Homo sapiens: one gene and its partners. The protein of the gene in region 6 interacts with the protein of the main gene of each other region in a pairwise test. Each region holds a gene or a part of one and is shown on either strand. Other genes may lie near its edges. The genes, in order: CEP57L1, ZNF410, NTAQ1, NDOR1, ZNF572, MTUS2 and TCHP.

The links.
Region 1: the proteins of MTUS2 (region 6) and CEP57L1 interact in binary tests that used the Homo sapiens proteins (3 or more experiments, as listed by UniProt).
Region 2: the proteins of MTUS2 (region 6) and ZNF410 interact in binary tests that used the Homo sapiens proteins (3 or more experiments, as listed by UniProt).
Region 3: the proteins of MTUS2 (region 6) and NTAQ1 interact in binary tests that used the Homo sapiens proteins (3 or more experiments, as listed by UniProt).
Region 4: the proteins of MTUS2 (region 6) and NDOR1 interact in binary tests that used the Homo sapiens proteins (3 or more experiments, as listed by UniProt).
Region 5: the proteins of MTUS2 (region 6) and ZNF572 interact in binary tests that used the Homo sapiens proteins (3 or more experiments, as listed by UniProt).
Region 7: the proteins of MTUS2 (region 6) and TCHP interact in binary tests that used the Homo sapiens proteins (3 or more experiments, as listed by UniProt).

The regions. Positions count from the first base shown.
Region 1 is NC_000006.12:109,171,713-109,174,918, forward strand, and holds the end of CEP57L1 (centrosomal protein CEP57L1), read left to right. Parts: 3' UTR 1-2,706; downstream 2,707-3,206. UniProt on the Homo sapiens protein: Centrosomal protein which may be required for microtubule attachment to centrosomes.
Region 2 is NC_000014.9:73,917,859-73,921,358, reverse strand, and holds part of ZNF410 (zinc finger protein 410), read right to left. Parts: intron 380-3,500; coding exon 254-379; intron 1-253. UniProt on the Homo sapiens protein: Transcription factor that binds to the sequence motif 5'-CATCCCATAATA-3', and is specifically required to silence expression of fetal hemoglobin in adult erythroid cells.
Region 3 is NC_000008.11:123,437,274-123,440,773, reverse strand, and holds part of NTAQ1 (protein N-terminal glutamine amidohydrolase), read right to left. Parts: coding exon 3,440-3,500; intron 2,641-3,439; coding exon of another isoform or gene 2,558-2,640; exon of another isoform or gene 2,445-2,557; intron 1-2,444. UniProt on the Homo sapiens protein: Mediates the side-chain deamidation of N-terminal glutamine residues to glutamate, an important step in N-end rule pathway of protein degradation.
Region 4 is NC_000009.12:137,208,700-137,212,199, forward strand, and holds part of NDOR1 (NADPH-dependent diflavin oxidoreductase 1), read left to right. Parts: intron 1-3,500. UniProt on the Homo sapiens protein: NADPH-dependent reductase which is a central component of the cytosolic iron-sulfur (Fe-S) protein assembly (CIA) machinery.
Region 5 is NC_000008.11:124,976,295-124,979,889, forward strand, and holds the end of ZNF572 (zinc finger protein 572), read left to right. Parts: intron 1-53; coding exon 54-1,564; 3' UTR 1,565-3,095; downstream 3,096-3,595. UniProt on the Homo sapiens protein: May be involved in transcriptional regulation.
Region 6 is NC_000013.11:29,019,339-29,022,838, forward strand, and holds part of MTUS2 (microtubule-associated tumor suppressor candidate 2), read left to right. Parts: intron 1-3,500. UniProt on the Homo sapiens protein: Binds microtubules. Together with MAPRE1 may target the microtubule depolymerase KIF2C to the plus-end of microtubules. May regulate the dynamics of microtubules at their growing distal tip.
Region 7 is NC_000012.12:109,903,274-109,906,773, forward strand, and holds part of TCHP (trichoplein keratin filament-binding protein), read left to right. Parts: intron 1-647; exon of another isoform or gene 648-663; coding exon 664-874; intron 875-1,463; coding exon 1,464-1,520; intron 1,521-1,555; exon of another isoform or gene 1,556-1,741; intron 1,742-3,298; coding exon 3,299-3,367; intron 3,368-3,500. UniProt on the Homo sapiens protein: Tumor suppressor which has the ability to inhibit cell growth and be pro-apoptotic during cell stress. Inhibits cell growth in bladder and prostate cancer cells by a down-regulation of HSPB1 by inhibiting its phosphorylation.

The DNA of each region.
Region 1 (3,206 bases), on a different chromosome or scaffold from region 6:
AAAATGAAAAAACCTACAAAATTACCAAAGTCACCAAGTTTAGTTATTCTTTTCATGGTGGAAAACAGTTTCCTCAGATAATCATCATATCAGAGGTCATCATGTATCCTTAGATATCAGCATTGCCAAGACCAGGGATATAGTTATTAGTAATTTACAGGAAAGGCTCAAGGTTTCATTTACATGGGAAATGAGAACTAGACAGTGTGGTGACTGTTTTTGTTGTTAACCTTACCTCAGTGTTTTATCTCGGGTGGTCCCCAAGACCACCTTCAGGATCAGTGATTCACTGGAGGGACTCACAGAACTCAGAAAAGCTGTTAAGTTATGGTTATGGTATATTATAGCAAAAGAATATATATTAAAATCAGCAGCTGAAAAAAGGCACATAGGGCAAAGTCTGGGGGACACCAGGCACAAGCTTCCAGTTGTCCTTCACCTGTGAAGTCATGTAGACAGACCATAATTCTCTCAGCAGACAGACCATAATTCTCTCAGCAACAATGTGTGACAACATTCTTGGAGAATTGCTAACCAGGGAAGCTCCACCAAGCCTTGGTGTCCAGATTTTTTCTTGAGGGTTGGTCACGTAGGCATAGCATGACTGATAGCCCATGTGGCTGACCTTCAGTTTTCAGCCCCTCCAAAGATGGAGCTGATACTACATGGCCTAAGGACTTCACCATTAATCACATTGTTAGCTTAGACTACCTGGTATGGCCTAAGGCCCCCAAGTAAATTAAAACATTCATATCAGGCAGGATAGTCCAAGGACTTAGAGGTTATCTTGAATCTGGACACAGGACAAACATTTCTTTGGAATGTGAAAAGTTTACACAATCAAGACTTGCTATGTTGATCCTTTACTGCGGTATTGTTTTTTGTTTTCTGACCCAAAAGTGATGTGCATTGCTTACCTATCATGGCCTCTGGTTAAGGTGTCAGTCTTGCCTCCAAATTTCCTCCTAAAGCATGGAATTGGCCATAAATTTGCTTAGTGATTTTCTGATTTAGTATCATTAGTTTGATGACTAGTTTTATTATGTGAGTGTGATAAAAGGTTACGCTTAGTATACAAAGACCTTCTTATAAGTCTAGTTAATAAAACTAGGGCCATGTGTTACTACAACATAGGAGTTAACTTTGTCTGGAGGCTTTTTCAAGCCCAAGAGGTTGTCATTTCTTTATGTGTAAGATACTGCCCACATACTATACTGAAGTCAGGAACCAAGAACCGGTCAATTTACCTCAGCCAAGTTGCTTGGACTGCTTTGCTTAATAATGGGTTTGCCATATCTACTTTAATGAGATGTGTGGCATGGTGATGGTTACAAAAGTGATTTGTTAATTATTGCCTGGTAGGAAGGAGAACATGTTTTTTTTGAACCTATGCAAATAGCCACATGTCTGTGAAAAGTAAAGGGATACTTTTGTGTAATATTTAACCATGTATACCATTGTTTGTGTACTTTTTAATTGTGTCATTTTCTACAGTATTATTTTTGCATTTTCCTGACACTGTATTACTTACAAGTTATATTAATAATTTTTATTAATTTTTTTCCTGAATCCTAAAAGGTCAGTTGGAACATGAGACCATTTAAAGAATATTATTTCCTTCCAGTTTATTCAAGGGTGGCCTATTGAGAGTTTGAGATAAAGAAGAAAGGAATCTTTCCTTTCCTTCCCCCTCAGCCCGCCCCCTACCTTTCTTTTTTTTTTTTTTTTCTTTTCAGGGTCTTGTTCTGTCACCCAGGCTGGAGTGGAGTGAATGCAATCAAAGCTCACTGCAACCTCAAACTCTTGGGCTTAAGCAGTCCTCCTGCCTCTGCCTCCCAAGTAGCTGGGACTACAGGTGCATGCCACCACACCTGGCTAATTAAAAAAAAAAAAAAATTTTTTTTTTTGAGGAGACGCGGTCTCACTTTGCTGCCCAGGCTGGTCTCAAACTCTGGGCTCAAGCAATCCTTCCACCTCAGCCTCCCAAAGCTCTGGGATTACAGGCATGAGCCACTGTGCCCGGCAGAATTTTTCTGTGTCCATTAGAAATAGAAATCAGTCACATGCTATGATTTCAATATGTCACTCAAAAGCCATGTGTTGGGGCTGAACGTAGTGGCTCACGCCTATAATCCCAGCACTTTGGGAGGCAAAGGAAGGTGGATCACTTGAGGTCAGGAGTTTGAGACCAGCCTCCAACATGGTGAAACCCCGTCTCTACTAAAAAAAAAAAAAAAATTAGCTGGGTGTGGTGGCATGCACCTGTAGTCTCAGCTACTCATCAGGCTGAGGCAGGAGAATCGCTTGAACCCAGGAGACAGAGGGTGCAGTGAGCCGAGATCATGCCATTGCACTCCAGCCTGAGCCATAGAGTGAGTCTTGGTCTCAAAAAAAAAAAAAAACCTTGTGTTGGAAACCATCTCCAATGAAGCAGTGTTAGGAGATAGGGCCTAATGGATATAAATTACAGTGTCTAAGATGGATACTTTACTCTTTTCTTTTGAGAAGGGAGAGAGTATGTTATGCACTGAGAACTTTTCAGATTTCTTGCAGAGGTCATAATGTTCCAGACAAGCTGGCAGCAATCATTCCCATCCCATCACAGATCCAGGCTTATTTGTAGAATGGTTACACAAACCAAGCAAAACCTTCTGTAAAGTTTCTACCCTTTGCTCTAAAGTTACATAAAAACAATTTCCAAGTTTGTTCACTGTGTATATTTTGTTCTTTTTCATGGTAGATTTGTCTGTTGGAGTTAGATATCCCTAAATAGTGTGTTCAAATGATGTTTTTTTCTGACTGTTCAATCTCCAGCATATTTCTGAGGGAGAAAGGACATTGACTTTGGAGAAAGAAAGCTGTGTAATTACAAATGGACTATTACAAAGAACTATGCCTTCCTTTTTGAGGAGAAAAAAGATGGTTTTTAAAAATTAATACGCAGGCTGGGCGTGGTAGCTCACGCCTGTAATCCAAGTCCTTTGGGAGGCTGAGGTGGGAGGATGGCTTGAGCTCAGGAGTTTGAGACCAGCTTTGGCAACATAGTGAGACCTCATCTCTACAAAAAAAATTTAAAAATTAGCCAGGCATAGTGATGCATGCCTGTAGTTTCAGCTACTTGGGAGGCTGAGATGGGAGGATTGCTTGAGCCCCAGAGATGGAGGCCGTGTGAACCATGATCATGCCACTGCACTCCAACCTGGGAG
Region 2 (3,500 bases), on a different chromosome or scaffold from region 6:
GCAAATTATCTCATTTATCAGATTGCTTTGTTTTATTGGTGGGCGGACAAGCAACAAAAAGTATATAAATTTTAAAAGGTTGCAGATGATTCTACTGTATAGCTATGTTTGGAAACCATCAGCCCATCAAATGAGACCAGGTCTATCTACCCAAAACAGAATCAGAAAATTTCCAGATAAGCAGGCAGGACAGTGATTTGGCTCTTGGAACCCTAGAAGTAGTACAGCGTTCCACTATGCCCACCCTCCTCACCAGTTTGCTCCTGCTCTTGACTCCCAGCTGCTCCCAGCTGCAGGTGATGCTTTCTCATATGCACATTCCTGCTTCCACTCTGAGAGAAGGTCTTCCCACAGACTTGGCACTGATGAGGCTTCTCTCCTGAAACAGGGACCAGGTTAAACAAGGAAGCCAAAAGGACAGGAAGAGAATGAACTCAAGACCTAGATGGAGAAACCCAGAGAATGTTAAACTGAACATAAGCAGCTGCTCCTTTTCCCATTCCGCACCTTCCCAGCCTCTCAAACTTCAGTATATGGGGGAAGGCAGGAAGAGTACACCAGGAGGGCTTTAGCACACTCCCTGCTCCCAGCTGCTGGTCCTTTCCAGACCTTCTGTAATGCTGCCTTCACAAAACCTCTTTGGTATAGGACCATGGCAACCACAAAAAATATGCCTTCTTTTTCAGTTAGTCTTCCATGGACCTCTAGGACATGTGCTTTCCTCAAGGATTTCAATCCTGTGTTCCTAATATCCCCTTGTCATATTCCCTGCCACCCTCTTTAGGGTCATCAACATTCACACTGGTGGCTCTTACAACATAATAATCTAAATTGTCCTCTATGTCTTCAAGTCCCAAACTCTCCGTCTCCATTCTACCTACCCAGAAAACCATACTTAGAGCAGGGGTCAAAAACTCATGTCTATAGGAGACTGATAGGTAGCAAAAGTAAGTAAAATGGCCAAGTGGGGGCTGCAGTAACCTAGAGAGTACCTAGAAAAGGGGCAGCTGTTATTCAGCTCTAGCCAACTGTTGCCATGGGTAGATTAAGGCAGATTCTCTGATTTTTTTTTAAGACACTGGAAATAAGGATTTTTAAGTAGAATCTCCCAATTTCTAAATGCTAGGAACAAATTCACAATTGACAAACACATGGTACAGCAATCATCATTGCTGATTGTATTTTGCTGGGAATGCAAAATACAAAAACCTCTTTGGGGGAATCTGACCAGATCTAGAAAAATTGTAGATGCACTTGCCCTTTGACCTAGGAATCCCACTTCTAGGAATATGTCCCAAAATTACAGCAGCAAAATGTGAAATACTCTGTGCACAAGGTTATTCATCACGGCAACATTATTTTAAATGGCTAAATACTGGAAACAACGTAAATATTCATCACAGAGACTGACTAAAAAGCTATAGATACTGCAGTAGTCCTGCATAGCAAAAAAAAAAAAAAAAAAAAAAAAACCTATACAATAGAAACAGGGTGGAATATTACAAAGCTTAGAACTAAAAACTGAATCACCATTTGAACCAGCAATCCCATTACTGGCTATCTACCCAAAGGAAAATAAACTGCTCTACCAAAAAGACACTTGCCCTCACATGTTCAATGCAGCACTATTCACAACAGCAAAGACATGGAATCAACCCAGGTGCCCATCAATGGTAAATACGATACAGAAAATGTGGCACATACACACCATGAAATACTATGCAGCCATAAAAAAGAACAAAATCATGTCCTCTGCAGCAACATGGATGCAGCTGGAGGCCATTATCTTAAGCAAATTAACACAGAAACAGAAAATCAAACACCATGTTCTCACTTATAAGCGGGAGCTAAACACTGGGTACTTATGGACACAAAGATGGGAACAATAAACACTGGGGATTCCAAAAGCGGCTACGGGGCAAGGGCTGAAAAACTACCTATCAGGTACTATGTTCACTGCTTGGTCAACAGGGTCATTAGTAGCCCAAACTTCAGCATCTTGGAATATACCCTTGTAACAAACCTGCACATGTACCCCCTGAATCTAAAATAAATTTATTTTAGCCAGGTGCAGTGGTTCACACATGTAATCCCAGCACTTTGGGAGGCCGAGGCGGGCAGATTACTTGAGGTCAGGAGATCAAGACCAGCCCGGCCAACATAGTGAAACCGCATCTCTACAAAAATTAGCTAGGCGTGGTGGCGGGCGCATATAATCCCAGCTGCTTGGGAGGTTGAGGCAGGAGAATTGCTTGAACCCAGGAGGTGGAAGTTGCAGTGAGCCAAGATCATGCCACTGCACTCTAGCCTGAGCCAGAGTGAGACTCTGTCAAAAAAAAAAAAAAAAAAAAAAAAAAAAAAGGCCGGGCACGGTGGCTTACTCCTGTAATCCAGGCACTTTGGGAGGCTGAGGCGGGAGGATCACGAGGTCAGGAGATCAAGACCATCCTGGCTAACACGGTGAAACCCCATCTCTACTAAAAATACAAAAAGGTAGCCGGGCGTGGTGGCGGGCGCCTGTAGTCCCAGCTACTCGGTACGCTGAGGCAGAAGAATGGCGTGAACCGAGGAGGCAGAGCTTGCAGTGAGCCGACATCACGCCACTGCACTCCAGCCTGGGAGACAGCAAGACTCCGTTTAGGGGAAAAAAAAAAAAAAAAAAAAAAAAAAAAGGCCATATGAAATGTCCAGAACAGGCAAATCCAGACACAGAAAGCAGATTAATGGTTGCCAGGGGCTGGAGAAAGAGAGACATGGTCAATGATACTAATAATGGGACTTCTTTTTCTTTTTTTAATCATCTCCTGGATATGGGGATCCTTTTTGGGATGATGAAATGTTGTGGAGTCGGACAGTAGAGAAAACTGTAAAACTATGAATATATAGTTGGCCATCCACATCCATTGATTCAACCAAGCAGATAAAAAATATTCAGAAAAAATAAAAATAAAAAATAACAGGCCAGGCGCAGTGGCTCATGCCTGTAATCCTAGTACTTTGGGAGGCCAAGGCAGGTAGATCACTTGAGGTCAGGAGTTCCAAGACCTGGCCAACATGGTGAAACCCTGTCTCTACTAAAAATATAAAAATTAGCCAGGCACATGCCTGTAATCTCAGCTACTTGGGAGGCTGAGGCAGGAGCATCACTTGAACCCAGGAGGTGGAAGTTTCATTGAGCCAAGATCGTGGACCACTGCACTCCAGCCTGGGCAACAGAGCGAGACTCCATCTAAAAAAATAAATAAATAAAAAATAACAATATAGCAATAAAAAATACAAATAACCAATATAGCATAACTATTCACATAGCATTTACGTTGTATTAGGTACTATCAGTAATCTAGAGATGATTTAAAGCATATGGGAGGATATGTGTAGGTTATATGCAAATACCATGCCATTTTATGTAAGAGACTTGAGTATTTGTGGATTTTGGTATCTGTGGGGTCCTGGAACCTATACACCACAGATAACAAGGGATAATTATATTACTACTAAAA
Region 3 (3,500 bases), on a different chromosome or scaffold from region 6:
ATCCCAGCACTTTGGGAGGCCGAGGTGGGCAGATCACTTGAGGTCAGAAGTTAAGAGAACAGCCTGGCCAACATGGTGAAACCCCATCTCTACTAAAAATACAAAAATTAGCTGGGTATGGTGGCACACCTCTCTAATTCCAGCTACTTAGGAGGCTGAGACAGGAGAATTGCTTGAACCTGGGAGTTGGAGGGTGTAATGAGCCAAGATCACGCCACTTCACTCCAGCCTGGGCAACAGAGCAAGGCTTTGTCTAAAAAAAAAAAAAAAAGAAGAAAGGAACGCTACTCTCAACCTTTACTCAGAAAGACGAAAAGCAGCCAGGCGTGGTGGCTCACGCCTATAATCCCAGCACTTTGGGAAGCTAAGAGGGGTGGATCACTTGAGGTCAGGAGTTCGAGACCAGCCTGGCCAACGTGGTGAAACCCCGTCTCTACTAAAAATACAAAAACTAGCCAGGTGTGGTAGTGGGTGCCTAGAATCCAAGCTACTTGGGAGGCTGAGGCAGGAGAATCGCTTGAATCCAGGAGGCAGAGGTTGTAGCAAGCCAAGATTGTGCCACTGCACTCCAGCCTGGGCAATAGAGCAAGACTCCGTCTCAAAAAAAAAAAAAAAAAAAAAAAAAAAGGAGTTAATCCTGGCCAGCGTGGTGGCTCATGCCTATAATCTCAGTATTTTGGGAGGCCAAGGTAGGAGCAATATACTGAGACCCTACCTTGATTAAAAAAAAAAAAGAGTCAATTCCATAACTAAATCCAACATACCCAATAATGCATGTATCTAAAACATGCATTAATTTAAAGTCTGTTTTCTTTTTTTTGAGACAGAGTCTCCCTCTGTCACCCAGGCTAGAGTGCAGTGGTGCAATTTTGGCTCATTGCGACCTCCACCTCCCAGATTCAAGCAATTCTCCTGCCTCAGCCTCCTGAGTAGCTGGGATTACAGGCGTGCACCACCACGCCTGGCTAATTTTTGGTTAATATGGGCCAGGCACAGTGGCTCACCCCTGTAATCCCAGCACTTTGGGAGGCCAAGGCAGAAGGATCACCTGAGGCCAAGAGTTCAAGACCAGCCTAGCCCACATGGCAAAACCTCATGTCTACTAAAAATATAAAAACTAACCAGGTGTGGCCGGCGCGGTGGCTCACGCCTGTAATCCCAGCACTTTGGGAGGCCGAGGCGGGCAGATCACGAGGTCAGGAGATCGAGACCATCCTGGCTAACACGGTAAGACCCCATCTCTACTAAAAATACAAAAAAAAAATTAGCCGGGTGTGGTGGCGGGCGCCTGTAGTCCCAGCTACTCAGGAGGCTGAGGCAGGAGAATGGCATGAACCCGGGAGGCGGAGCTTGCAGTGAGCTGACATCGCACCACTGCACTCCAGCGTGGGTGACAGAGTGAGACTCCGTCTCAAAAAAAAAAAAAAACTAGCCAGGTGTGATGGTGTATGCCTGTAATCCCAACTAATCCAGAGGCTGAGGCATGAAAATTGCTTGAACTCAGGAGATGGAGGTTGCAGTGAGCTGGGATCGTGCCACTGCACTCCAGCCTGGGCAACAAGAGTCTCAACAAAAAAAAAAGAAAGAAAGAAAATTGGGCTGGCAGTGCTCACCTCGGCAGCCCATATAGTAATTGGGCTGGCAAAAGCCCAGCACAAAACAGCATCCAATGACTAGTAGTCATCAAAACAAAAGGAATTGCCCCAGTTGGACCAGGGCTGACAAGGGGTTCACTAAATGCCTGCGATGCACTAGGTTCTGTCTTAGGTGCTCACATCTCAAGGGGAAACAGGTAGCTGCTAAAGGCACACTGTGGCCAGACCAGGCCCTGTAGAGCAGGTTGCCATAGATGCTAAGGCAGACCCCTCGAGCCCTCTCCTTACCAGGGAGCTTCCCCAGTTCTCACACTGAGGCCAGGAAGCAGCTCTGTGTACTGATAAGCAATTCCAATATAATTTTTTAAATTATGAGAGCTTTTCATAGAGAGCCTCAAAAATCAGAGTTTGAACCCTCTCTTAGTGTTCAGTCCCCTCAAATATGCCAAATGTATATTTTACTTTCTTCCGTTAAACTATTTTTTTCTTTTTCTTTTTTTTTTTTTGAGATGGAATCTTGCTCTTGTCACTCAGGCTGGAGTGCAGTGGTGCGATCTCGGCTCACTGCAACCTCTGCCTCCCGGTTCAAGCAATTACCCGGTTCAAGTAATTCTCCTGTCTCAGTCTCCCAAGGAGCTGGGACTTCAGGCACACACCACCACACCCGGCTAATTTTTGTATTTTTAGTAGAGACGGAGTTTCACCACATTGGTCAGGCTAGTCTCGAACTCCTGACCTCAGGTGGTCCACCCACCTCAGCCTCCCAAAGTGCTGGGATTACAGGCATAAGCCACCACGCTCAGACCCTTGTTGAAGTACTAACACTACTGCCCTATTTTTCTGACATGCTGCAGAGCTCACAGAGCACTTTCACACAGACTGTATTATCCAGGTGTTGGGATGATCTCACCCCTAAGTGGGAATGTTGTGAATTACTTACAAACGTAAATAATACTTCAAACTCATATGAATGCCAAACAATAGTAATAGGGTGAAGGACCCTTTATCTTCTTAAATGTCAGGAAATTATCAACTGGATTGATGCCTAAAAGCACATAAATGAGACAAGTGGTACAATAAAACCTGCTAGCGCTCACCTCCCTCTAATGCAGATTTTATTATATAGCCAAAGTGACATTTCACACATCATAAGGATGCAATGGGGATTTCTTTCACCACAGCACAAAACCCTACCATGGCAAGGTGCTACTAGTCCCGCTGTTAAATGACACAAGCATGCGAGTATCCTGATGTTCAGTGTCCCCGCAGTAGCTACATCCAATAATCCAGCAGTTTGCAGGTGCCCTGGTTCTGATCCTTAACACCCTTCCTCTCCCACATGTTCTTATGCCTTCCAGTCCTATTCTCTGTGCCTTCATTTCTGAATCTAATACACACACAGAAGTAGTATTTCCTATGACCTCCTTATCATTCATGGAATTTTTTGTTTTTTGTTTTTTGTTTTTTTTTTTTTTTGAGATGGAGTCTCACTCTGTCACCCAGGCTGGAATGCAGTGGCCCGATCTCAGCTCACTGCAAGCTCTGCCTCCCAGGTTCGCACCATTCTCCTGCCTCAGCCTCCCTAGTAGCTGGGACTACAGGTGCCTGTCACCACACCTGGCTAATTTTTTGTATTTTTAGTAGAGACAGGGTTTCACCGTGTTAGCCAGGATGGTGTCTATCTCCTGACCTCGTGATCCGCCCACCTCGGCCTCCCAAAGTGCTGGGATTCACTCATGGAGTTTTATTCAAAGAACAACCTGACTTTTGTCCTCCGTTAAGGAAAAATGCTGATGTGTATGTGATCAATCAGAACCCCCATCTGAGAAGGCATCTTGGCTCACCTCCAGTCTCAATGCAGGGATATGGCGGCGGAGGCTCTCTCCAATTCCCACTGGAGTCTTT
Region 4 (3,500 bases), on a different chromosome or scaffold from region 6:
TGTGATCACAGTTACTCCAGAGGCTGAGGCGGGAGGAGCTCTTGAACTTGGGAGGTTAAAGCTGCAGTGAGCTGTGATCACACCACTACACTCCAGCCTGGGCGACAGAGCAAGACCCTGTCTCAAAAAAAAAAAGACGGGAGAAACTTGACATGTTTTTTTTGTTGTTGTTTGTTGTTGTTGTTGTTGGTTTGTTTTGAGACGGAGTCTCGCTCTGTCGCCCAGGCTGGAGTACAGTGGCGTTGATCCCAGCTCACTGCAAGCACTGCCTCCCGGGTTCGCGCCATTCTCCCGCCTCAGCCTCCCAAGTAGATGGGACTACAGGCGCCGCCACCACGCCCAGCTAATTTTTTGTATTTTTTTAGTAGAGATCGGGTTTCACCGTGTTAGCCAGGATGATCTCAATCTCCTGACCTCGTGATCCACCTGCCTCAGCCTCCCAAAGTGGTGGGATTACAGGCGTGAGCCACCACACCCGGCCAAAACTTGGCATGTTTAATTGCTGGCAGGGGAGAGACAGGAGAAAGAGGCTGAAGACTGAGTAGGTATGGCAGGGGATGTGCAGCGGCTTGGGGGAGAGCTGAACATAGGTCGAGGGGTCTCAGATAGAGTGGGATGGAAGAGAAGGGGTTTCAGAGTGGAGCACAGGCACGGGAGGGGAATGGTGGGATAGGGAAGCCCCAGAGCATGGGAGAGGAGAGGGACTGAGGCTGGGCTGGGCATTCAGTCAGCCAGTGGCAGGAAGCTGGTGCTAATGCCGGGATTCAGGTCAACGAGGAAACGAAGAGTCCCAAGTGTGGGCACCCACAGAGAAGACCAGGAGTTGGAGGGGGCAGCTAATGCCCACAGCGGGAACTGGGAGCTCCTTGAAGAGGCTGTGGACCCAGGGCCCATGGCCTCAGAGGCAGGGGCGAGTCTTAGTGGCTATCCATAGCTAAACCAGAGGACCCTGGCTCTCCATCCACAGCGAAACAGGAAGACCCTGGCTCCTTGCTGAGGATGCTGTAGGTGAGGCAGGTGCCCCCAGCAGCAGACAGGAGAAAACAGAGGAACCACAGTGAAAGGCCAAGTGACCAGGTCCCTGCCTGTCTGGTGAAGAAACCCATGGGGCGCTGGGCGCGCTGGCCCAAGCCTGTAATCCCAACACTTTGGGAGGCCGAGGCGGGTGGATCACCTGAGGTCAGGAGTTTGAGACCAGCCTGGCCAACATGACGAAACCCCATCTCTACTAAAAATACAAAAAATTAGCTGGGTGTATTGGTGCATGCCTGTAATCTCAGCTACTCAGGAGGCTGAGGCAGGAGAATCACTTGAACCCAGGAAGTGGAGGTTGCAGTGAGCCGAGATCACACCACTGCACTCCAGCCTGGGTGAAAACATGCACCAGAAAGAACCACACCCCACCCGAGGAAAGACCCGCATAACAGGCAGAGACGGGCACAGGCTGAAGCAGCCAAGGATGTTACCCCCACGGGGCAAAGCTGGAGACTCAGGAACAGGAAACAGTTTTTTCTCTTTCTCTTTTTCTTTTTCTTTCTGGAGACAGAGCTCTTGCTCTGTTGCCCAGGCTGGAGTGCAGTGGCAGCCATCAACGGCTCACTGCCCCCTGACCTTCCAGACTCAGGTGATCCTCCCACCTCAGCCTCCTGGGTAGCAGGGACTGCAGGTGCGCACCACCACATGCAACTAATTTTTTTTTTTTTTTGTATTTTTTGTAGAGATGGGGTCTCAAGCTTCTGGGCTCAAGCAGTCTGCCTGCCTCATCCTCCCAAAGTGCTAGGTTTGCAGGTGTGAGCCACCACACCTGGCCAGAAATAGTTCTTTAAATGGACATGAAAAAACTTTAAAAGATTAGAAGACGCTGGGCACAGTGGCTCAAGCCTGGAATCCCAGCGCTTTGAGAAGCCAAGGTGTGGGAGGATCGCTTGAGCCCAGGAGTTTGAGACCAGCCTGGGCAACATGACGAAACCCAGTCTCTACAAACAAAATAATAATAAATTAGCTGGGCGTGGTGACACACACCTGTAATCCCCACTACTTGGGAGGCTGAGGTTGGAGGATCGCTTGAGCCCAGAAGGTCAAGGCTGCAGTGAGCTGTGATTTCAAGACTGCATTCCAGCTTGGATGACAGAATGAGACCCTGTCTCAACAACAAAAAAGGCCGGGCACGACGGCTCACGCCTGTAATACCAACACTTTGGGAGGCCGAGGTGGGTGGGTCACTTGAGGTTAGGAGTTCGAGACCAGCTTGGCCAACATGGTGAAACCCTGTCTCTACTAAAAATACAAAAATTAGCCGGGCATGGTGGCACGCACCTGTAATCCCAGCTACTTGGGAGGCTGAGGCAGGAGAATCACTTGAACCTGGGAGGCGGAGGTTGCGGTGAGCTGAGGTCGCACCATTGCACTCCAGCCTGGGCTACAGAGTGAGACTCCATCTCAAAAAAAGATGAGAAATCCTTCTAGAAAGTATGACAAAAAGCAAGATAGAAAATGGAAGGAAGCAGATACCAAAATTCGAAGATAATTCCAGTGGCCTCAGAATGAGAAGACAATGGTGGAGAGGAAGTTATCCAGGAAAGTAATGATGTCTAGAGCGGGGTCTGCGGCCAGAGAGCCCCATGCCCAGGAAGGGCCCTGCTGAGAATGAAAGGGCTACCCCCGGGGCATGTCACTGTGGGTTTAGCCTCTGGGGACAGAGTGCCCTACACACCCCAAGGGCAGCAAGTGGGGCCCTGGCTTTTCAGTGGTGGTGCCAAGCCCAGGACAGACCCAGCCGCATGCCAGTCGAGTGAGGGAAAAGTCACAAGAATGTTCTCTCCAGAACCCTTTTCTCGGGAAGGAGGAAGTTCACCAAACGGAGCAGGGAAGAGAGTCTTTTGGGATTCAGGAAGCAAGGGTGTCTCAACAGCAGGGCGCTAGGGAGGGTCTCGGGGGCAAGAGGCTGGGTACATTTGCTCGCATAGCGTGGCCCAGAGAGGCAGCTGATGAGGCAGTGAGGTCCCGGGAGGCCAGGGGTGGTCCAGGGCCAGGGTCAGAGCTGTGGGCTGACAAGGCCAGGGCCTCCCTGTCTGCTAGCCTCCATGCTTGGCCACGGGAAGGGGAGGTGGGTGGGCGGCGAAGACCACGCACACAGGCCACCTGGGATCCAGGTAGGGAGGGGGCAGTAGGTTCCTTGGGGGGGCCTCTGATCAAGCTGGGAGGACACCGTGGAAGGCACGGTGTGGAACCAGAGGATCTGGACCCTGTTGGCTCGAGGTCCTGCAGCCACGGAAGGAGGGGGATGTGTCTCAGCGACACTGGAACCTCAGAGGGCCGAGTGTGAGAGCCCTTGGGATGGACCTCAGAGGTCTGAGTATAGGAGCCTCTGGGACAGACCAACTCAGGGAGTGGAGGCCCACGCTCTGGCTGGGAAATGACAGGTGGAGGTGAGGGACCCCTGGGGCGGTGGACAGTTTGGAGACCAAGTGCAGAGCTGCTCCTGGCAGCTCAGAGCCTGG
Region 5 (3,595 bases), on a different chromosome or scaffold from region 6:
ACTTCTCTGGCAGAGATTTGGAATATGGTTAGAATATTTGTTTATTCTTGCAGGAGATACAAGTATGAATAATTTGGAAACTGTTCACCACAATAATTCTAAGGCAGATAAACTTAAAGAGAAACCTTCAGAATGGTCTAAAAGACATAGACCACAACATTATAAGCATGAGGATGCAAAAGAAATGCCACTGACATGGGTTCAAGATGAGATTTGGTGTCATGATTCCTATGAGAGTGATGGCAAGTCAGAGAATTGGGGAAATTTTATAGCTAAAGAGGAGGAAAAACCCAATCACCAGGAATGGGACTCAGGAGAACATACCAATGCCTGTGTCCAGCAGAATTCATCCTTTGTAGACAGACCCTATAAATGTTCCGAATGTTGGAAAAGCTTCAGTAATAGTTCTCATTTGCGTACTCACCAGAGGACCCACTCAGGAGAAAAGCCTTATAAATGCTCTGAGTGTGCAAAATGTTTTTGTAACAGTTCTCACCTGATTCAGCATCTAAGAATGCACACAGGAGAGAAGCCCTACCAGTGTGGTGAATGTGGGAAAAGCTTCAGCAATACCTCCCATCTTATTATCCATGAGAGAACTCACACGGGAGAGAAACCCTACAAATGTCCCGAGTGTGGGAAGAGATTCAGCAGCAGCTCTCACCTTATTCAGCATCACAGATCACATACAGGTGAAAAACCATATGAATGTTCTGTCTGCGGAAAAGGCTTCAGTCACAGCTATGTCCTAATAGAACATCAGAGGACTCACACTGGAGAAAAACCTTATAAGTGCCCTGATTGTGGGAAGAGTTTTAGTCAGAGTTCCAGCCTCATTCGCCACCAGCGGACACACACAGGTGAGAAGCCCTACAAATGTCTTGAGTGTGAAAAAAGCTTTGGTTGTAATTCTACTCTAATAAAACATCAGAGAATACATACAGGAGAAAAGCCTTATCAATGTCCAGAATGTGGGAAGAATTTTAGTCGTAGTTCAAACCTTATTACACACCAGAAAATGCACACAGGAGAGAAATCCTATGAAAGTTCTGAATATGAGGAAAGTTTGGGTCAGAACTGCAATGTGATAGAAGAATGCAGAATCCAGTTAGGAGAGAAACCATATAGATGTTGTGAATGTGGGAAGAGTTTTGGCCTTAGCTCCCATCTCATTAGACATCAGAGAACACATACAGGAGAAAAACCTTACAGATGTTCTGAGTGCTGGAAAACTTTCAGTCAGAGTTCCACCCTGGTGATTCACCAAAGGACACATACAGGAGAGAAACCTTATAAATGTCCTGATTGTGGTGAAAGCTTCAGTCAGAGCTTTAACCTTATCAGGCACCGGAGGACCCACATAGGGGAAAAACCTTACAAATGTACCAGCTGTGAGAAATGCTTCAGCAGAAGTGCCTACCTCAGTCAGCATCGGAAAATTCACGTAGAAAAGCCTTTTGAGTCTCCCGACGTTGGGGATTTTCCTCATGAATGGACTTGGAAAAACTGTTCAGGGGAAATGCCCTTCATCTCTTCATTTTCCGTCTCAAATTCATCTTCCTGAGTCCCAAAGCCTGGTTGGTGATGGTTTTTTCTTCCTTGTTGGACCATGACAATTTAGGTATTCTGTGATTGTTGTGCTATAAAGTTTCTTTGATGTGTTTGTCAAAACATTTGGAAAAAGTCAACCTCCCAGTTTAAAGGATGGGAAGACCCCAATCACCAGGTTATTGGATCTGTCCAGTGAGAGATTCATCCACCAAGGATGAAGAAAGGAGGACTTTTAAAAATTTAAGGTAAGATAGTAATAGCTTCAAAAGAACACATACAGAGTAATCCTGAGAGTAAGCAAAGGAACCATGAGAACCGAAGCTAGAATTGCTATTGAATTACTTTATTTTCTCTTCCCTTATTGGGTAGAGATACATCATTACTGGCCTCAGGGGTTTACCCAAAGAAAGGGTATTTTTGAGCAAATAATGTGATTTCCTGGCTATTTTGTTGGGGGCTTAAGATTTTTTTTTTTCAAATGCATTTTTAGTCACTAAAAATTAACTGTCGTACCATCTAGAACTATACTGTCCAGTACCATAGCCTCTAGCCGTATGTAGCTATTTGTATTAAGATTAATTGAAATTTTAAATCCAGTTCCTCAGTCACACTAGCCACTTTCTAAGTGCTCAGTAGCTCTGTGTGACCAGCGGCTACTGTATTGGATATTATAGAAGGTTCTTTCATTCAAGATCATCATTCTTGACAGACCCATAAATATTTCCTATAAAGACTGTAGAAGTGTGTTCTGGAGGGTTTGCTCTCCAAAAAGAATTGTAATATAGAGTAGAATTGGGATAGAGTATTGAAGACACTGGGTTTAGACATTGGATATTTTAATGATTGTGTGTTCTAATTCATGTGCTGCCAACTGAGTTATCTAGTGATATGACCTCACTGTCTTGACCAAAGCCAGAATAGAAGGCAGGATTCCTGAATTCTATCTTAAAATTTGCAATGAAGAGCCTTTTCCCTAAATTATCCCATTATGTAATTCTTGGTCAGCTCAAGAACTGGGTTCTTTTTCTAATAATTAACTCACTAAATCTGAGCCAGTGTCCAAGGACAGTTTGTCATTAAGGAGTACTGAGACTTCTTAGCTTTGGTACTGACAGTTTTCTTTTGCCTCTTGACATAATTGGTATATGGATCTGATAACTGAGGTCCCATCTTCCCTACTCATTCCTATGGGAATGATGCTTTGGAAATTATTAGATATATCCTATTCCCTTCCTCCCATTTTTTTCCTGCTAGTGCAAAAGGTAGATGAGTAGGAAGATTAGGACTCCTGAGTTGCCCATGATTTCATCTAATTTTTGGATTCAGAATGTATTTTATGAATAATATGCAGAGATGCATATTAGGAATGTGAAGCCAGAATGGGTCAGTTGTAGCTGCTGCAAAGTTCTGTAGCTGATGGTCATTTAATTGCATGGGGGTTATTTTATCTTTCATGATTGTGGTGCACCTGATGCTGGCGGGGTATTTGTGTGTTTTTGTATTGTTATTTGATTACAAAAATAAAGCAAAAACTAACAAATAAAGGTATTGGAGAATTTGGGGGAAATTTTCTGCTTTCAAAAAAGGGGGAAAACATTAGGCATTATTGGCTTTTTATTTTTATTTTTTTCTTATTCATTATTATTATTTTTTTTTTTGAGACGGAGTCTCACTCTGTCGCCCAGGCTGGAGTGCAGTAGTGCGATCTTGGCTCACTGCAAGCTCTGCCTCCCGGGTTCATGCCATTCTCCTGCCTCAGCCTCCCGAGTAGCTGGGACTACAGGTGCCTGCCACCACGCCTAGCTAATTTTTTGTGTTTTTAGTAGAGATGGGGTTTCACCGTGTTAGCCAGGATGGTCTCGATCTCCTGACCTCATGATCCAGCTGCCTTGGCCTCCCAAAGTGTTGGGATTACAGGCGTGAGCCACTGCGCCCGGCCCTTATTAATTGTTTAAGAGATAAGGTCTCACACTGTCACCCAGACTGTAGTGCACTAGCACCATCATAGCTGACTGCACCCTCAGACCCCTGGGCTCAAGGGATC
Region 6 (3,500 bases):
TAACATTGGTGTCGATGAATGACACCAGTGAGTGATTTATCAGTGGATTATCAATGAATGATAATGTAGAAGGAACTCTTAGCTTTTCCACGATAGTATGGGAACAAGAATGGATTGCAGATATTTTCGATGAAAAATTAAGGATGGGCTCCACAAGTTTTAAAAGGATAGAACGATGCATTGAGACCAGCAAGGTGATGTTTGAGAAGTATATTTTTATGATCCCACCCATGGGTGCTAAAACCAGTTACAAATGTCTCGGATTGGGTCAGTGGAGTTTAGGACAACTTATATGGTACTTTGGTGTTTTAATTAATGATGTGGAACTAGAGGGTGATTTATATGTCCATGAGGAGGTCATTCTTAGAATGCGTGGTTAGAAGTAGAAGAGAATGGAAGGCTTGCTTTCTTATGACTCTAGATGGTGCAGTTAGAATTGAAGTATTGTGCATAGCTCTGGTCACCTTGTTTAGGAGGGACTTCAGGTTCCCTGGTGCTACACGGTGTACTTAGAGGAAAGCTGTTTGGATGGTGGGAGTTTTCAAAAGCTAATCCCACAGTTGGGAGAATCTGAGTTCTTTGACAAGGAGTAGAATAGGTTTTGGGAGGAAGGGAGCATATAGCTCTTTGTAAATACCTGAAAGGTCATCTGGTGGAAGAATTGCATCATTCTGCTGTAGAGAGGCAGAGCTTGCCAACAGAGACCCTGCCCAGATGTGTGGTGAGTTTTCTGGCCCTAGAACCAGGGGAAGCCACTTAGAAGACTCTTAAGCATCAGGTAGGTTATAAGCCTAGATCTTTACATTCCTTTCAAACTAGTACTGAACTAATTGATTTTTTTCAAGATAAAATATCAATTACTTCTAAGGCCATTATTGTTAACTTTTTGTAATAATAGATCTGAGGCATATGAAAGTTACATGTCTCACTCTGGGAAAATGCACCTCAACTAGGGGTTTGTACCATTGGTTGACCTATTTGCATATTTTATTTAATCACACACAGTCTTGTATTATGTACAAGTTTGAACTTCTGTGATCATGTTATATATTCTGTGAAAACGTTTATCTTAGTAGAAGGCCTTGGATTGAAATTTAGATCCGGACAGAAATTCGTGTTTGTGTTTACTTTGCCGCTGTCTTATGGCAGGATGAGGGAGCTGGAGTGAGGGAGACGCGTGAGGCCACATAAGGAGGAGGGAAGCTGACAGGAAACATGACTTCCTGTATATAATTTTGCCTGATAAAATTGAAGAAAGTTTTTAAATTTGCTTTTCCTGTCTTATGTGAACTTCCACGTGTTGGTTTCTGGTTTTGTTTTTCTATTCTTGTTCTTACAATAGTTTGTTTTCCTTTTGTTCTTCCTGTGTGGTGTATGATTCCATTCATGGGCAGCTTTTCTTCTTTACAGCTTCTGCTTTCTAAATGTGTCCCAGCTCTGCCACTCATGAGCTGTGTGACCTTGGGAATGTTACCTTCTCTGTGCTTTCATTTCCTTACCAGGACGTGGGAAAAAAAAAAAAGCAAGGGGATGTGAAGACCTGTCTCTGGAGGCCTGCTATAAATATTATTAAGTGTCCTAACTTAAATTAAAATTGAATATTAAAGACTTGTAATTGTGTAATTTTAATTTAAAATTAAATTTTAGGCCAGGTGCTGTGACTCATGCCTGTAATACTGGCACTTTGGGAGGCCAAGATAGGAGGATCACTTGAGGCCAGGAGTTTGAGACTAGTCTGGTCAATGTATCGAGACCCTATCTCTACAAAAAATTAAAAAATTAGCCAGATGTGGTGGTGTGCACCTGGAGTGCCAGCTGCTTGGGAGGCTGACCCAGGAGGATCTCTTGAGCCCAGGAGCTCATGGTTGTGGTGAGCTATGAACGTGCTACTGCACTCCAGCCTCGGCAACAGAATGAGATACTGTCTCAATTTTTTAAACAAATTTGTATAATGGCTGAGAAAATACTGGGCCCCTAGGAGGTTCCACCTTTCTTTCTGTCCCCTTACCAGTGAGTACCAGTTGTTTACTGACAAAGATAAAGAACATTTATGATGTAGTTCCTTAAAAATTAAAATACAACTCTTTCTAGCATGACATTGGTTTTATATTTCTTTGTCACTTTCTTGCAATCATGTTACATGTTGTGGACTTTGGTACTTTGTTTTTGTTTGTCTCTGCTGAGCAAAGTTTCTTTCTTTCTCCCAGCTTCAACAATTCAAACCGAAGAGGGCTCTTGGCTGCATATTTATACTTCTGCCCACAGAAAATTAGAGGCAGTTCCCTTCTGTGGATGGCCTATATTTATGAACTTTCTTGCCCTTCTTGACTTTGCAAGATACCCGTTTCTCATCCCAGAGAGCACAGCATTCTTTTAAACTGTGATCTTATTGATTTGCCTACATGCTTTTTGTATTTGTGCTTAGAGAACATGTGTATCTTCAAGGGAAACGCTTTTAAAATTGAATAAACAAAGACACAAGGGTTTGTTGAGAATCCCCTCTGTGTCAGGAAATGAAGACTGTGATCAGGGTATGAGCAACTTGGTTGAGGGCTATATTGGGGTCAGGCTGCACCAGGGGGTGCTACTGGCTTAGTGGAGATAAGGCTGGTAGAAGATGGAGAAGGAGAAAAAGCATGAGAGCGGGGAGGATGAGGACAGTGAGGGAGTCGTGGAAAGAACAGAAGAGCAGTGTGGTACGGAAATGCAAGCGCACATGCACATGTATGACTCTGTATTTTCCCATGATCATGCAAACATGGGGAAAGAAATGGAAAGATCTAGATGTTAATGTGTCTTGGGGTATGGGCTAGAAGAGGCAAATTTTAAAAAATGGAACAAAAACCAGCTTATAGGAAATGATCTTATGTATGTAAAAAAGTTTACATGCTTATGTATAGACGCAAAAGAAAAGAGATCTCTAAGTTGGAAACACAGAGGGCTTCAGTGAGGAGGAGCATGAGGATGGCTGCAAGGTGTCCTTGGGTTGGGTGATGGGCTGTCACGTGTTATATTATTTTGCTTTGTAACATATACATTTTATTAAATAGAGATAGGGTTTTGCTGTGTTGCCAAGGCTGACCTCAAGTGATCCTCCCACCTCAGGCTCCCAAAGCGTTGGGATTACAGGTGTGAGCTACTGTGTCCAGCCCTCATATTCTTTTTAATATATGAAACAACATATTAACAGGGATAAAGGGAAAACAAGTGGGTGGCCACGTTGCCATGTAACCTGTTTCAGGAGAAACATAACAGTAGCCTCACATGTGGTGTGCACGTGTGCTTGCACATTCTTGATGAATGAGGAGGAAAGTGTGGAAGGCTTCAAGTCTCCATTGGGGGAATTGGTGACGGGGCAGAACCTTGTTGCTGTTAAAATCCCCTATCCCCAGTGCCTAATAAAATGCACTCATAATAGTGGATGAAACAATGTCAACCTTGAATAGAATGGTTTAGTGGTGATCTGTGAGTCTACTTTAACAGAAAAGCATATCCTGTGT
Region 7 (3,500 bases), on a different chromosome or scaffold from region 6:
GAGGCCTTAAGGATTTAGGGAGCGTAGGATTTGCCAGGCAGTATGAATTACCTGCATGGTGATGTTTTTCCAGCTGGAAATGGAAAAAAAGATCATCAGTGCAGCCATACATTGGCATTGAAAAAGATAAAATGATGCAGAAGCATATGATAGAATTTGGAAGCCTGGTTGTAACCCCATATCCCCAGAGACAGCCACAGTTAACAGTCTGGCACATATCCTTCCATGCTGTTTCCCACTGGTATTTGTGCTTAAATATACACACACAAAGCTACTTTTATAGAAATACGTGTAAAAACATGGAGGCCAAAAGCATAGGCTTTGAAGTCAGACCTAGATGGAAATCCTGACCGTGTCTCTTGCTGAATGTATGAGCTTTGGTTTCCTCATCAATCAAGTGGGGCTACAGCAGACCTATGCTGTAGGATTTATGTGATGGATAATATATACATTATTTATACATTTATACATTTTCTTTTTGCAAAAAACAAGATTTTCTCTTACACATACTATTCTGTGACCTGCTGTCTCTGCTTTGGCTGGGGACACATTCCTGTGTCGTCATGACACATCTACCTCAGCCTCTTTTACCGACACAGCAGAGCAGAGCACGTTCCCTGTGGCTGTAGCATGATTGATTCAGGCAGGCCCCCTCTCACCCAGCATGCATGCCTATCAGCGGGAGAAGATGAAGGAGGAGAAGAGGAGGAGTCTGGAGGCCCGACGGGAAAAGCTCAGGCAGCTCATGCAGGAGGAGCAGGACCTGCTGGCCAGAGAACTGGAGGAGCTGAGGCTGAGCATGAACTTGCAGGAAAGAAGAATCCGGGAGCAGCACGGGAAGCTGAAATCAGCCAAAGAAGAGCAGAGGAAACTGGTAACTCCCCAGAGGGCTTCAGGAGGCTGTGGAGCAGGAGTGTTCCCAGCCTGAGTGTGTCGCACATGTAGGGTCATTCCTGGGTGCTCAGGTCTGATGAGATGCCAGTTAACTCCAGAGCCAGCAGGAAAAGAGCTTAGGTCCTTGTGCAGGGACTGGGTTTTGGATCAGTTAGCTGTAGTCTCTTTAGCCCCTTCAATCATTACATCTGAGTGCTTTTCCTTTCTTCCAGTTCTGTGGGTCCACAGAGATCTGGGACTAGTCTGTTTTACCTTCCAAAGTAGTTATGTGAAACAGTGAGCCCTAATCTGTGCTTTTCAGCCTGCTGTATTATTTTGAGACCCCCTAGATAGGACCTCTGTGTAGCATCAGATTTTGGCCCCCTTTTGTCATCATTGCAAGAGTCACTTGGTAGTGCCATGTGGTTCTCAGAGCTGTGCATGTGAAGCATGAGGGTTTGAACAGTGGTTGCAGTGACGGTGTGAAGGGAGGCACTCATAGCCTGAGCTGACTTCCACTGTGTGTCATCCAAAATGTGAATGGATTTGAAAAATGACATCAGGCTTTCCATTTTGTGTTTTCTTGATAGATTGCTGAACAACTTTTGTACGAACACTGGAAAAAGAACAACCCGAAACTTCGAGAGGTGAAAATCAGAGATCTCCATTGATTTATCTAAGTAGATGAAATCATGTTTCCAGACACTTTTTTTTTTGAACACGTATCTTGTACCGGGTTGAAACAGAGGAGGGAACCTTGAGCCACCTGAAAAGAGCGCCAGGCAGAAGATCTGGCACAGGCTGCGCTGAGCGGCTCATTCGGTTGTTGAACAAATGTTGATTGAACCTCCGCTGCCTGGTCTGCCAGGTGCGGGCATGGAGATTAGACATGGTTTCTGCTCATTAGCTTGTGTCCAGCATGGGAGCTCATTACAGGGCAGGATGCAGGGTGCTGGGCCAGCCTGAGAGGATGAGCATGGGCCAGCGCACTCAACTCTGGAGGGGTTGGGGAGGCTTCCCAGAGGAGTTCCTGGGGTGGAAGAGTTTGAAGGGATGTATGTGTGTAGAGGTGAGGAAAGGATGTTCTAGGTTGATGTGACTGTGAGAACCAGGCTTGAGACTCGAGAACAGAGCGAGCCCTGGGAGCTGAAAGTGTCTGGGTGAGGCTAGGATGTCAGATAGTGAGGGAGAACCCCAAGAAATGACGCTGGCGAGGCAGAGGGTGCCAGACATCGGAAGAGCTTGTGTGACCTTCCTCCAAAGGGGCTGGGGGCAGCATACAGGATCCCAGCTGCATTTCAGAGAGACTCCTCTGGTAGCAATGTGCCCGCCGACAGGGAGGGGTGCTGCGACAGCCCAGCCGGGGGTTGGTGAAGGCCTGAACTGGGCTGGCAGGGGAGGGGGTGGCCTCTTGGCTTGGTGGCCTTGTTCAGTGGAGATTTGGCTGCAGGGAGATCATCCCTCACTGTTATTCATTTATTTTCAACTTACAGTTTTTGTATACATTTGGTGCCTTCGTGTTATTCGTAGTTACATTTAGAAATCGCCAGGCACTAAATAATGGAACATCTGGTGCTTTTGTGCAGTTTGCACTAATCTGTGGGAGGACTCCTTAGCCCTGTTGGCTTCGGTGGAATCATCCAGAGCCGTTAAATCAGAAAAGTTTATTCAGAACATTCAAGTTAATTGCCTATGTTCACAGCTGTAAGTTGGGAAAGATTATTTTAAAACTTTTTTATAGAGACAGGGTCTCCCTGTGTTGCTCAGGCTGGTCTCAAACCTGGGCTCAAGTGATCCTCCCACCTCAGCCTCCCGAGTAGCTGAGACTACAGGTGGGCGCCACCATATCCAGCTAATTTTATAAACAGTTTCCCAAACAAAAGATTTGGATTGAATGTTGTGATCCATTTTCTAATCCAGGAGATTGTCTGCGCTCAAATCTCTTACTAACAATGCTAAACTTGTTGCACCTACTGGTGCATCACTTGATACAGGGAGTACGTAGTCCATCTGCTTTGCAGAGGAAACTTCGGGGAGCCAGGCACAGGGTTGAGTCTTCTCACTCAGCTGTCTCCCAGGGCCTGGCATGCAGTACATCAACCCAAGGTGGCCTTTGAAATTGTATTTCCATTTCAGCGTCCAGCCCAACCCTAGGGCTAGTGGGAGGGAAGTCTCTGTTACTTTGTACCAGCTCAAAAGATTGGTGTAGGAGTGCCTGGTCCTTTGGTCTTCTGATTGACATGCATTCACACTATACATGTTGAAGTCACCCCACGCTCTCTACTAGACGCCTGTGCCACTGAGTCCCCATGAAGCGAAGTCATGGCCACGTTCCCGCAGGTGGCACAGAGGGCAGGAGCACACTGTCCCCACAGTGCCCATCTGTCTGGTGAGGAAATTCACATCGTCCCCCTTCCATCCTCAGATGGAGCTGGACCTTCACCAGAAGCATGTCGTAAACTCTTGGGAAATGCAGAAAGAAGAAAAAAAACAGGTGTGGTATGTGGCTCTGGGAATAGCCGCGTATTCTGCTGTGCGAGACTGTTCACGTCTTTGCATTCGTTTACCGTTTTCAGCATCAGTGACTCCAGTTAAGGAGTGTAGTGTACTCTTTTCTTAGTTTACTT